3 linked regions of the Homo sapiens genome follow. The protein of the gene in region 1 purifies or fractionates together with the protein of each later gene. This does not show direct contact. Each region holds a gene or a part of one and is shown in the gene's direction. Other genes may lie near its edges. The genes, in order: AP3M2, AP3B2 and AP3S2.

Region 1 (3,654 bases):
TTTTTCCTCTATTGTGAATTACCTTTTCATGTCCTTTGTTCATTTTTTTGTTGTTGAAATGTATTTCTTTTTTCATGTGGATTTAAAATCTCTTTTATGGGAGATCTTTATGTCTTTTGATTACTGCATTACAGATATTTTCTTACAGTCTATCACTTGTGATTTAGCTTTGTTCTGGTGGTGTTTAGCCACATTTTAAATGTTTTGATTTAATCAAATTAATCATTCTTTTCATTAAGGTTTTACATTTTGGGTCTTGTTTAATGCATAAGCAAGCATTTTCATGGAATTTTATAAACTGATTGAAAAATACATTTTAAAAGTATAAATATTGCAAGAATAGCCAGGACAGTTTTGGAAAAGAATTACAAAGGGGTTGTTGGGAGGATTTGCCCTGTCAAATATCACGACACGTTAAGTTTGTATAGTACACAAGACAAATATTCATACAGTAGACATCCTACAAGACCCAAGAGAGTTTTGAAAATAATATTTTTAAAAAGAGGAAAGATAAAATGTGTCCTACCAGATATCAGATATATTACAGGTTTAACATCCCAAATCCAAAATCCAGAATGCTCTACAATCCAAAACTTTTTGGATACTGACATGACACTCAAAGGAAATGCTCATTGGAGGATTTCAGATTTTTGAATTTGGGATGCGCAACTGGTATAATCCAGATATTCCAAAATTTAAAAAAATACAAAATTTGAAACATTTCTGGTCCTGAACATTTCAGGTAAAGATTACTCAATCTGTATGAAGTTTGGGTAGTTTTTAAAATTTGGTATTTGTCTGTAACAGACAGATAGGTCATTGGGATAAAATAGTCCAGAAACAGACCCTTGCTTTTATAGGAATTTGGTGTAGATAGATGTGGTCATTTATCAAATCAGTGGACCAGGGGCTGGTTGTTAACTATATTGTATTAGGGCAGTCAGCTTCAATATGGAAAAAATTAAGTCCCTCCACTTCACACTATACACAAAATAAAGTCTAGCTAGGTTAAGGAGTTAAACACAGACTTTATAATTATTAGACAAAAACAGGAGAATGTCTTTTTGATCTCAGAGAAGGGAAGATCTTTTTTAAAAGTCTAGTTTGTGATTTTATTTTTGGATTTAATTATTTAATCCATTTGAAAATTATCTTGGTGTGCAATAATGTTTATTTCTTCAAGAGTTTTCCTAGCACCATTGTGTAATTTATCCTTTTCCCCTGTTTTAGAATGACATTTCTATCTTGTCCTGTCATTATGGATTCTTGGTCTGTTTTTAGGCTTTCCTGCCTTTTCCCTAGACTGCTTTGATTATTATATCTTGATGATACATTTTAATACATAGTTCCTCTTTTTAAGGAAACAAATTTGGTGGTTTCTTCAATATTCTGAGTTCATTTTAAGCCTTAAAAGCTTTGTTAGTGCCTGAATCATTTACGAATATTATGAAGTGAGTTAAGCCTGTATCTCACTTTAATCTAGAAAAGGGTATCTAAGAACCACTTTTGAAAAGTTGAAATGGGCCTGACATATTGGCTCATGCCTGTATCCAATACTTTAGGAGGCTGAGGCGGGAGGATCACTCATGCACAGGAGTTCGAAATCAGCCTGGGCAACTTGATGAAACCCTGTCTTTACAAAAAATACAAAAATTAGCCAAGCATGGTGGTGCATGCCTGTGGTCCCAGCTACTCTGAAGGCTAAGGTGGGAGGATCACTTGAGCCCAGGAGGTCGAGGCTGCAGTGAGTTATGATTGTGCCTGTGAATAGCCACTGAACTCCAGCATGGGCAACATAGGAAAACCCTATCTCTTAAAAAAATTTTTTAGGTGGGCATGGTGGCTCACATCTGTAATCCCAGCACTTTGGGAGGCCGAGTTGGGTGGATCATTAGGTCAGGAGTTCAAGACCAGCCTGGCCAACATAGTGAAACCCCGTCTCTACTAAAAATACAAAAATTAGCCGGATGTGGTGGCACGCGCCTGTAGTCCCAGCTACTCGGGAGGCTGAGGCAGGAGAATTGTTTGAACCCGGAAGGCAGAGGTTGCAGTAAGCCAAGACTGCACCACTGTACTCCAGCCTGGGCGATAGAGCGAGACTCTATCTAAAAAAAATTTTGTTTAAAGACAGAAAATAAAAGGATCCAGGTAATGGAAGAAGGAAATAGAATTTAAATTAATGTATTTTATTATGTCAGTATAAAACCTTTTAAATTAAAAAAAGTTTATGCCTGTAAAGGAAAAAACAAGTGAAGGAATTGATCTACAATTCTTAAAGACAGGGAGAGATCAACTTTGTGTTCTTTTCCTAAGTTTCAGTGTTGGAACTTGGGAATGAGACAGATCATATTGATATGTACATTTTAGTACCTACCATAAATGTACCTAAGAACCTATCTCAGGCTCAAATACTGTTTTTACCCATGAAATTTTTATATCAATATGTAGATTACGAACTCTACTGAAAGCCAATACATTATTTAAGCTGCATCTGAGATACTAAGTTCAGGTTACTTTCAAAACCAAAATATGATATCTGTTTCTCAGGTAACTTTTTCTTAAACCTTTATTCTGTTTGAAAAGGCAGACCAGATGGCAACAAGGGGTTTTAAAAATAGACTAGGTTACCCCATATAGAAGTTGGGAAAAACCTCATCTTCTGTTTGAAAAATTCTTCAATTGAGTGCATGAATAGTGGGAGCATAGAAACTTCTAGGGAGGTGTTCTGTGGTTTCTAGAGTCAAAATGGTGTTAAAATACAGTAATATTAATTGCCTCAGGAAGCACGAATGTGGGTGACCAGCTTCCCACTGGGCAGCTGTCAGTGGTGCCTTGGCGACGGACTGGGGTGAAATATACCAACAATGAGGCCTATTTTGATGTGATTGAAGAGATTGATGCAATTATTGATAAATCAGGTAGGTGCTTTTAATATGTTCTCAGAAATATGAAAATAGAAAGGGACCTCTTTCATATAATGCTTGTAGTTTCAGAATTAACCCCCATTCAAGGTCATCCACTTCAATTTAGTGCCTACTTTGTGCCAGGCACTGTGCTGGGTACTGGGAATGGACGTTAATATTATGATGCAGACCAGGGTTTATTTCATATGTTTACTTGCTTTATTGGTCTTATCCTCTTGAATAAAAAAGAGAAGTAACAGGCCAGATGTAGTGACTCACGCCTGTAATCCCAGCACTTTGGAAAGCTGAGGCGGGAGGATTGCTTGAGCCCAGGAGTTTAAGACCAGCCTGAGCAACATAGTGAGACCCCATCTCCACAAAAAGTGAAAAAAATTACCTGAGCATAGTTGTGCATGCCTGTATTCCTAACTTTGTGAGGGGCTGAGGTAGGAGGATTGCTTGAGCTTGGGAAGTTGAGGTTGCAGTAAGCCCTGATCATGACACTGCACTCCAGCCTGGGCAACAGCAAGACCCTGTCTCAAAAAAAAAAAAAAAAAAAAAAAAAAAAGTAACAAATTAATTTCTTATTGATTAAATTACCTTCTCGAAAGTATTTGGCTCCCAGTTCTGATGGCAGAACTAAAGTTGTAATCACAAAATTCAGGGAGCTGCCTTTTCTATGTGTTCTGAATTAGGTAAATATGACTAGAAGTCCTGGAGCTTCAGAATTTGTAGAAGCCAGTCATGATGG
Region 2 (3,654 bases), on another chromosome or scaffold:
AGAGAGGGTAGAGACACGGAGAGAAGGGGTGGGGGGTGCTTTGCCCCCCAGGAAAGTGGAGAGAAAAGAGAGGGTAGAGACACAGAGAGAAGGAGTCGGGGGTGCTTGTCCCCCAGGAACGTGGAGAGAAAAGAGAGGGTAGAAACATGGAGAGAAGGGGTGGGGGGTACTTGCCCCCCAAAAAGTGGTGTTTGCCACTAAGGGTGAAAGATCAAGGCAGGCATCCTCGCGGTGATCAGACAACTCTGAAACGTGGGTGAATAATCAAGCAGGCGTCCCCGCAGTGATTAAACACCAAGGGAAGACTGTCTTCCTGAGTCCGTGATCGGCGCCGGAGTTTTGGGTTCACAGATAAAATGCATTTCCTGTCTCTACCAGAAAAGGAAAGGAACCGAAATTAAGAGAAGGGAGAGATTGAAAGATGGCACCAAGATTGAAAGGAGAAAGAGGTTGAGGGATAGTGAGAGAGGTTGGAGAAGAGAGTAAAAAGAGGCCGCTTACCTGATTTAAAATTGGTGAGATGTTCCTCAGGCTGGTTGGTCTGAGGACCCGAGGTCATTAGGTGGATCTTTATCATGAAGCAAAGAGCAGGAGGACAGGGGATTGATCTTCCAAGGGTGGTCCCCCGATCCGAGTCATGGCACCAAATTTCACGCACGTCCATGTGAAGAGACCACCCAACAGGCTTTGTGTGAGCAATAAAGCTTTTTAATCACCTGGTTGCAGGCCGGCTGAGTCTGAAAAAAGAGTCAACGAAAGGAGATAGGGGTGGGGCCATTTTATAGGATTTGGGTAGGTAGTGGACAATTACAGTCAAAGGGGGGTGTTCCTTGGTGGGCAGGGGCGGGGGACACAAGGTGCTCAGTGGGGGAGCTTTTGAGCCAGGATGAGCCAGGAGAAGGAATTTCACAAGGTAATGTCATCAGTTAAGGCAGGAACAGGCCATTTTCACTTCTTTTGTGATTCTTCAATTACTTCAGGCCATCTGGATATATACGTGCAGGTCACAGGGGATATGATGGTTTAGCTTGGGCTCAGAGGCCTGACAAGGATGTTACTCAGGTTACTAGTTCCTGCAACTGGATGGATGATGGTGTTATTCAGTGTAATTGGAAATAAAGATGTTACAAGCAAATTTGTGGAAAATTAATGTTGAGCCCAGCTTTGGACATATTGAGATTGTAAACTCTGAGGGACATATTACCCTATTAGGTAGCTGGATATTACGATTTGGGTTCCAGGAGAGAGATTAGGGAATTATTAACATATGTATGTTAATTAAAGCCACAGAAGTGAAGATAACTCAGGGAGGAGGTATAAAATGAGTTCAGACACTGCACAAGTCTGAACCCTGAAGACACCAACATTAGAAGTGACCAGAGAACAGTGGAAAGTGTTTCAAGGTACCCAAGAGGTGAACTAAAGGCTGAAAGAAAACAATGTAATTTCAAGAAGGAGGGAGTGGTCAGTAGTTTCAATGCCCATTAAGGTCAAATCAAACAAGGAAAAAAATCATGACCATTGGTTGACAAAGAAGAGCTCAATTCCTTTCTACTCTATTCCCCACCTCCTGCCCTGGGAGATAAATTCTGGCAAAGTAAGGAGAACAGGAGCTAGATTATTTCTTTCCCAGCATTCTGTTGTGGATGATTTAAAACATACAGAAAAATGAAATGAATAATACAATGAACACATGTATATCATCCATCTAGATTCAACTGTCATTGACATCGTACCTTATTTGCTTTATCTAACCATCTATTCGTATACTTTTTTTGGTTGAACCATGTTAAGTTGCAGAGATCATGACCCTTCAACCCCACATTCTAAGTCGACATCTAAAGCCAGATTAAAATGAATAAAGGAGCACACAGGTGGTAAGTAGATAAAACAGTGAATGGAAATTTTGCTTTCAAGAAATTTGACTGTAAAAGAGAAAGCTGCTGGAGGAGAACCTCACTCAGTTCAAGGAAGTTTGTCTATTTTGTTATTTTGGGTTTTTTTTTTTGTTTCTTAAAATGTATGACTCCATATTTTTGTTTATTATTAATATTAGGCGGGAGAGCCTAGAGCAAGTTTAACTGCTGATGGGAAGGAGCGATTGGTGGGAGAGAGGCTGAAGGGAAGAAAGGAAGTACAGAACACTGAGTGATGGGAGGGGAGGCTTACTGAGCTGGGTGGGAGGACTAGCCTGGGAGCAGGGAGGACCAACTCTGCCCAGAGGGAAGAGGGCAGGAGGAGAGGAGAGTATAAATGCAGATGGAGACTGGGTACAGTGGCTCATGCCTGTAATCCCAGCACTTTGGGAGGCTGAGGCGGGCAGGTCACTTGAAATCAAGAGTTCAAGACTAACCTGGCCAACATGTCAAAACCCCGTCTCTACTAAAAATACAAAAATTAGCCAGTTGTGGTAACGCATGTCTATAATCCCAGCTACTCAGGAGGCTGAGGCAGGAGAATCACATGAACCCGGGAGGTGGAGATTACAGTGAGCCGAGATGGCACCACTGCACTCCAGCCTGGGCAACGGAGTGAGACTCCATCTCTAAATAAATAAATAAGTAAATAAATGCAGATGGATGGGAGTCTGGGGCAGGGGGCTGCAGGGGATTTCATCTAAAGACTTTCCCTTTTTCGGGAACCAGGTGGTGAAGCCATAAGGGCAAGGCTGGGAATGGGGACTTGAGGGTCAAAGGGGTTTCAAATACAATGAAGAAAGCCAACCAGGCCAGGCGCGGTGGCTCACGCCTGTAATCCTAGCACTTTGGGAGGCTGAGGCAGGCATATCACCTAAGGTTGGGAGTTTGAGACCAGCCTGACCAACATGGAGAAACCCCGTCTCTACTAAAAATACAAAAATTAGCCAGGTGTGGTGGTGTATGCCTGTAATCCCAGCTACTTGGGAGGCTGAGGCAGGAGAATTGCTTGAACCCAGGAGACGGAGGTTGCAGTGAGCCGAGATCACGCCATTACACTCCAGCCTGGGCAATAAGAGTGAAACTCCATCTGAAAAAAAAAAAAAAAAAAGCCACCCACCACTGGCAGGCCAGTGGCATTGGAGACCAGTGGGACAAGAGGGCCAAGGATGTGAGAGCAGTTGGAGGGATAGACACAGGGGTTGCGGGGGAGGGTGCTAGGAGGAAGTAGAGATAAGAGAAGGTTGATGGGAAGGAATAAATCAAGTATTGGCTCTGGAAAGGCAGGTGAGGATTAAGATGCCTAGGGTCAGTGAGAAGAGGGTATATGAGATTTCTCAGGAGGCTGCAGTCTAATTGTGGCAGTGGGATTGGAGCTGAAGAGGGCATCTCTCACCTCTCTATCAACTCCACTGACCATCTAGTCCCTTGCCCAGAGACTAGGGGTAGGCTTGGTCTCCTGTCCCTGCCCTTCTTTCCCTCTAGAGGCCTTGTCTCTGAGCAGTGAAGAGGAAACCGGAGCATCCCTCCCTGCCAGTGTCCGGTTACCAAGTTTTGGGGGCGGGCCATCTGGTGACTGTGACAGGAGCCCCAGCGCCCTGGCCAGCTCAGTCCATTCCTGGAGAAGAACCTGATGCAGCGATTCCTGCAGCTCCCGGGGGCCGTGGTGAGGCCTGGGGTCAGAGGGGCCTGCGGAGCTGATCAAGAGGCTGCTAGCCCTGTGCTGGCTCCCGAAGGT
Region 3 (3,654 bases), on another chromosome or scaffold:
GCTAAAGTTCTTGTATTTCTGCTTTGAGCTCTCATTTCATAGAGACAACTATTTTATCAAGTTTTCTTTTTTTCTTTGTGTAAAATATTTTATTACCATTGTATCTAGTCCATGGAGGCCCTTTTCCAGTCTGTGGTCTTAGTCTGCCATTTGGTTTTCCTATTTCTTTCCTAATTTTTTCTCGTTGTATATTTATATAGATCCTGTTTAGATTTTTTGTATACTTATCTTTAAATAGGCAAGTTTTTCAGGGACCAGCTGTTTTGCAGGATGTTTGTTGGAGGAGCTACCAAAACTCTGTTCTGGGCTAGCTACAGTTGTTCCCTTGATTTAGGGTTCTGGGTGAGTCCGTTTACCCTTAGTCTCTAGCCAGCCAATCGAGATAGGCAAGGCGTCTCTTAGCATCTCCACAATGCAAAGGATGTCTTCTCTACTACCACAGACACCACCTCTGTGAGGCAAATGTAGCTTGCGTGATTTCTCATTTAGCCTCAACTTCAGGTCCAAGGAAGTTCCTGCCTTCCAAAAACAAGGAATTAATTTGGTGCTGGAGTGTGTCCTTTACCCACAGGAAGTACATATTTTTGCAGATCTTTCTGAGATCACCAGCTTCCCTGTCCTCTCCCTGTAGCATCCTTTCTTCTTTTTCTTCTGTGAAGCAAAGGAGTCCCTGCCTGAGCTCCCTGCTTTTGACAGCTTTTTCACCTGTTTGGGGGTTTGGAATTTTGGATATCCTGTAGTTATAACAAAAATGGAGTTTGCATTTTTATTTCTTCTTTTTGCATTTGGAACATATTTTGAACAGCATTTGAAAATGCTGACTTTATGATGCAGTGTTAAATAAGAAGTTTTAACTGACTTTTTCTGTTAACCAGCCACTAGTCTCCACGACATCATGTGTTAGGCCTTTTACTATACCTTCTCCAGAAAGCCCCCACCACCACACTGTTGTCTATCTTCGAAGTCCCTAAAGCCCAAGGAATATGCTACTTAGATATATGGAAAGCCTTTCATTCATTTAGCATGCCTACTCTGAGCGTTGTTCTAGGCCTTGGAGATAAAGCATGGAAGAATTAATACAAGATATTGACACACCAAAGACAAGTCTTAAATGATTTCATGTGGACTAGGGGTCAGGGATGAATAGAGTGGAAGACATAGTTTGGGATTCTGAGGAAGTATGATATAAAGGGTAGAACATGAGCTCCGGAATCAGCACCATTCTGCTGCTAATATACATGACATTGGGATCATTTTATTGCCTTTTCCTCATATATAAAATGTATCAATTTCTTCATATATAAAGTGAAGTCAGGCCAGGCGTGGTGGCTCACGCCTGTAATCTCAGCACTTTGGGAGGCCAAGGCAGGGGGATCATCTGAGGTCAGGAGTTCCAGACCAGCCTGGCCAACATGAGGAAACCCCGACTCTACTAAAAATATAAAAATTAGCTGGGCATGGTGGCGGGTGCCTGTAATCCCAGCTACTCAGGAGGCTGAGTTGGGAGAATCGCTTGAACCCAGGAGGCGGAGGTTGCAGTGAGCCAAGTTCACACCACTGTACTCCAGCCTGGGTGACAGAGTGAGACTCAGCCTCAAATAATAATAGTAATAATAATAATAAAGTGAAGATTATATTACCTACCTTAGATGAATGTTGTAAAATTAAGGTAAGTTACATAAAGTACTTGGTTCATAATAGATACTCAACAAGTACTACTTTCTACCCACACAGGGATTGGCTAAATAAAAGGAATAAATACTGAAAGTGCAGGTATAGAGGACTATTTCTCTCCTTTTTTGTTAAATTGTGGTAAAATATGTAACATATAGTTTCCTGTCTTCACCATTTTTAAGCTTACAGTTCTGTGGCATTAAGTATATCCACATTGTTGTGCAGTCGCCACCACCATCCGTCTCCAGAGCTCTTCATCTTGCAAAACAGCACCTCTGTACACATTAAACAATAGCCACCACTGTCCTCTTCCCCCTGCCTCATGGCAGCCCCCGTTCCAGTTTCTGTCTCTGAATTTGACTACTCTGGGTACCTCACAGGAGTGGAATCACACAGTCCTCATCCTTTTGTGTGTGGGTTGTTTCACTTATAGTATCTTCAAGGTTCATCCGTGTTACATTGTGTCTCAGAATTCCCTTCCCTTTTACAGCATCTCAATTCAGATGAAAAAAAAAAAAAGAATTCTTTTCCTTTTTAAGGCTGAATAATATTCTGTTGTATTTCTATGGCACATTTTGTTGATCCAGTCGTCTGTTCATGGACACTTGGGCTGCTTCCACCTTTTGGCTGTTGTGAATAATACTGCTATGAACATGGGTGTACACATTCTCTTCAAGTCTTTACTTTCAGTTCTTTTGAGTGTATATCCAAAAGTGGAATTGCTGGGCCATATGGTAATTCTGTTTTTAATCTTTTTGAGGAACCACCATACTGTTTTCAGAGGCCTATTTCTTGATGGGGAAGTATAAACAGTGGAATTCCCCCAGGGAATAATTTTAAAACCAGTCTTGTTTAACATTTTGTAAATTATCTAAATATGAGACTTTTACCATTAAATCTTCATTTGCATATAGCTAATGAATAATTCATATTGTATAAAATGTAAGAACACCTCGTGAGAGTGTGTGTGTGCGTGTGTGTAGACAGAACAGTGGTTAATAAAGCTCAATGTGGGCACACACGCAAGGGAATACATTTGATTTATTATACTCTGTCCTCAAGATCAGAAGTTCCCTGCACTTACTGAGGGCAAAATACAGGGAGCCAATGCCAGAGAACTTCAGATGTCAGAAGTGCACAGTGCCCAGATATGCAGACACATCTTTCTTCTTGACTCTGCATTGCTGACAGAGTAAACTGGTGGTTGACTCTAGACTCTGGACCAGTGGTTCTCAGCTGGGGTGAATTTGCCCCCTGGAACACATATGACAATTCTGGAGACATTTTTGATTGTCAAGCTGGAGGAGTAGAGACCAGGGATGCTAGAGAACAGGCCACAGTGACAGGACAGCCCCACAGCAGAGGATTATCTGGTCCCAGATGTCACTAGTACCTAGGCTGAGAAGCCCTGCTCCAGACCCAAATTACCTTCTCAGCCTTGTCTTAGCCTCTCTCCTGCATAAAGAAAGTTGCCATCCCAGCCAGACCCAGGAGCTCCCCATACCTGCCCATACACCAGCTGAATTGCTCCTTCCAACATCTTCTACCTGAAATTCTTTCCCCTACCTCTCTAATGTCAGAGCCCAGCTTCCATCCTCCCACTGTCTCTGTGAAGCTCTCTGATCTCTCTAGCCACTGTACCCTTTCTTCTCTGACTTCCCCAGGACTATCCCAGTCATTTGGCACTTAGTTAACAATAGAAGGTTGTACTTGCTGTCTTCCCAACTTGACCGAAAGCACCTTGAGGGCCATTTGATGTGATTTGGTTTGAAATATGGAGTACCATTCCTTATGAACCACAGTGGGCATCTCTGCTTTGACCCACCCAGGGCTTTCTGTGACAGCTTTCCTACCACAAAGGGGTACAGTAGTTGAGTCACCTCCGTCCCATCACAGCAGTTAGGTACACTGAGATTCAGCTTTGTTTAGATGACTGCTAGCTAGATGGAACCTAAGCCCAAATGTGACCCTTATGCTTAG

What was found.
Region 2: the proteins of AP3M2 (region 1) and AP3B2 fractionate together in Homo sapiens (co-fractionation; one large-scale study listed by BioGRID). This does not show direct contact.
Region 3: the proteins of AP3M2 (region 1) and AP3S2 purify together in Homo sapiens (affinity purification with mass spectrometry; 2 studies listed by BioGRID and IntAct, with this or other methods). This does not show direct contact.

What each region holds. Positions count from the first base shown.
Region 1 is NC_000008.11:42,159,501-42,163,154, forward strand, and holds part of AP3M2 (AP-3 complex subunit mu-2), read left to right. Parts: intron 1-2,780; coding exon 2,781-2,918; intron 2,919-3,654. UniProt on the Homo sapiens protein: Part of the AP-3 complex, an adaptor-related complex which is not clathrin-associated. The complex is associated with the Golgi region as well as more peripheral structures.
Region 2 is NC_000015.10:82,699,771-82,703,424, reverse strand, and holds part of AP3B2 (AP-3 complex subunit beta-2), read left to right. Parts: intron 1-3,654.
Region 3 is NC_000015.10:89,838,388-89,842,041, reverse strand, and holds part of AP3S2 (AP-3 complex subunit sigma-2), read left to right. Parts: intron 1-2,697; exon of another isoform or gene 2,698-3,654. UniProt on the Homo sapiens protein: Part of the AP-3 complex, an adaptor-related complex which is not clathrin-associated. The complex is associated with the Golgi region as well as more peripheral structures.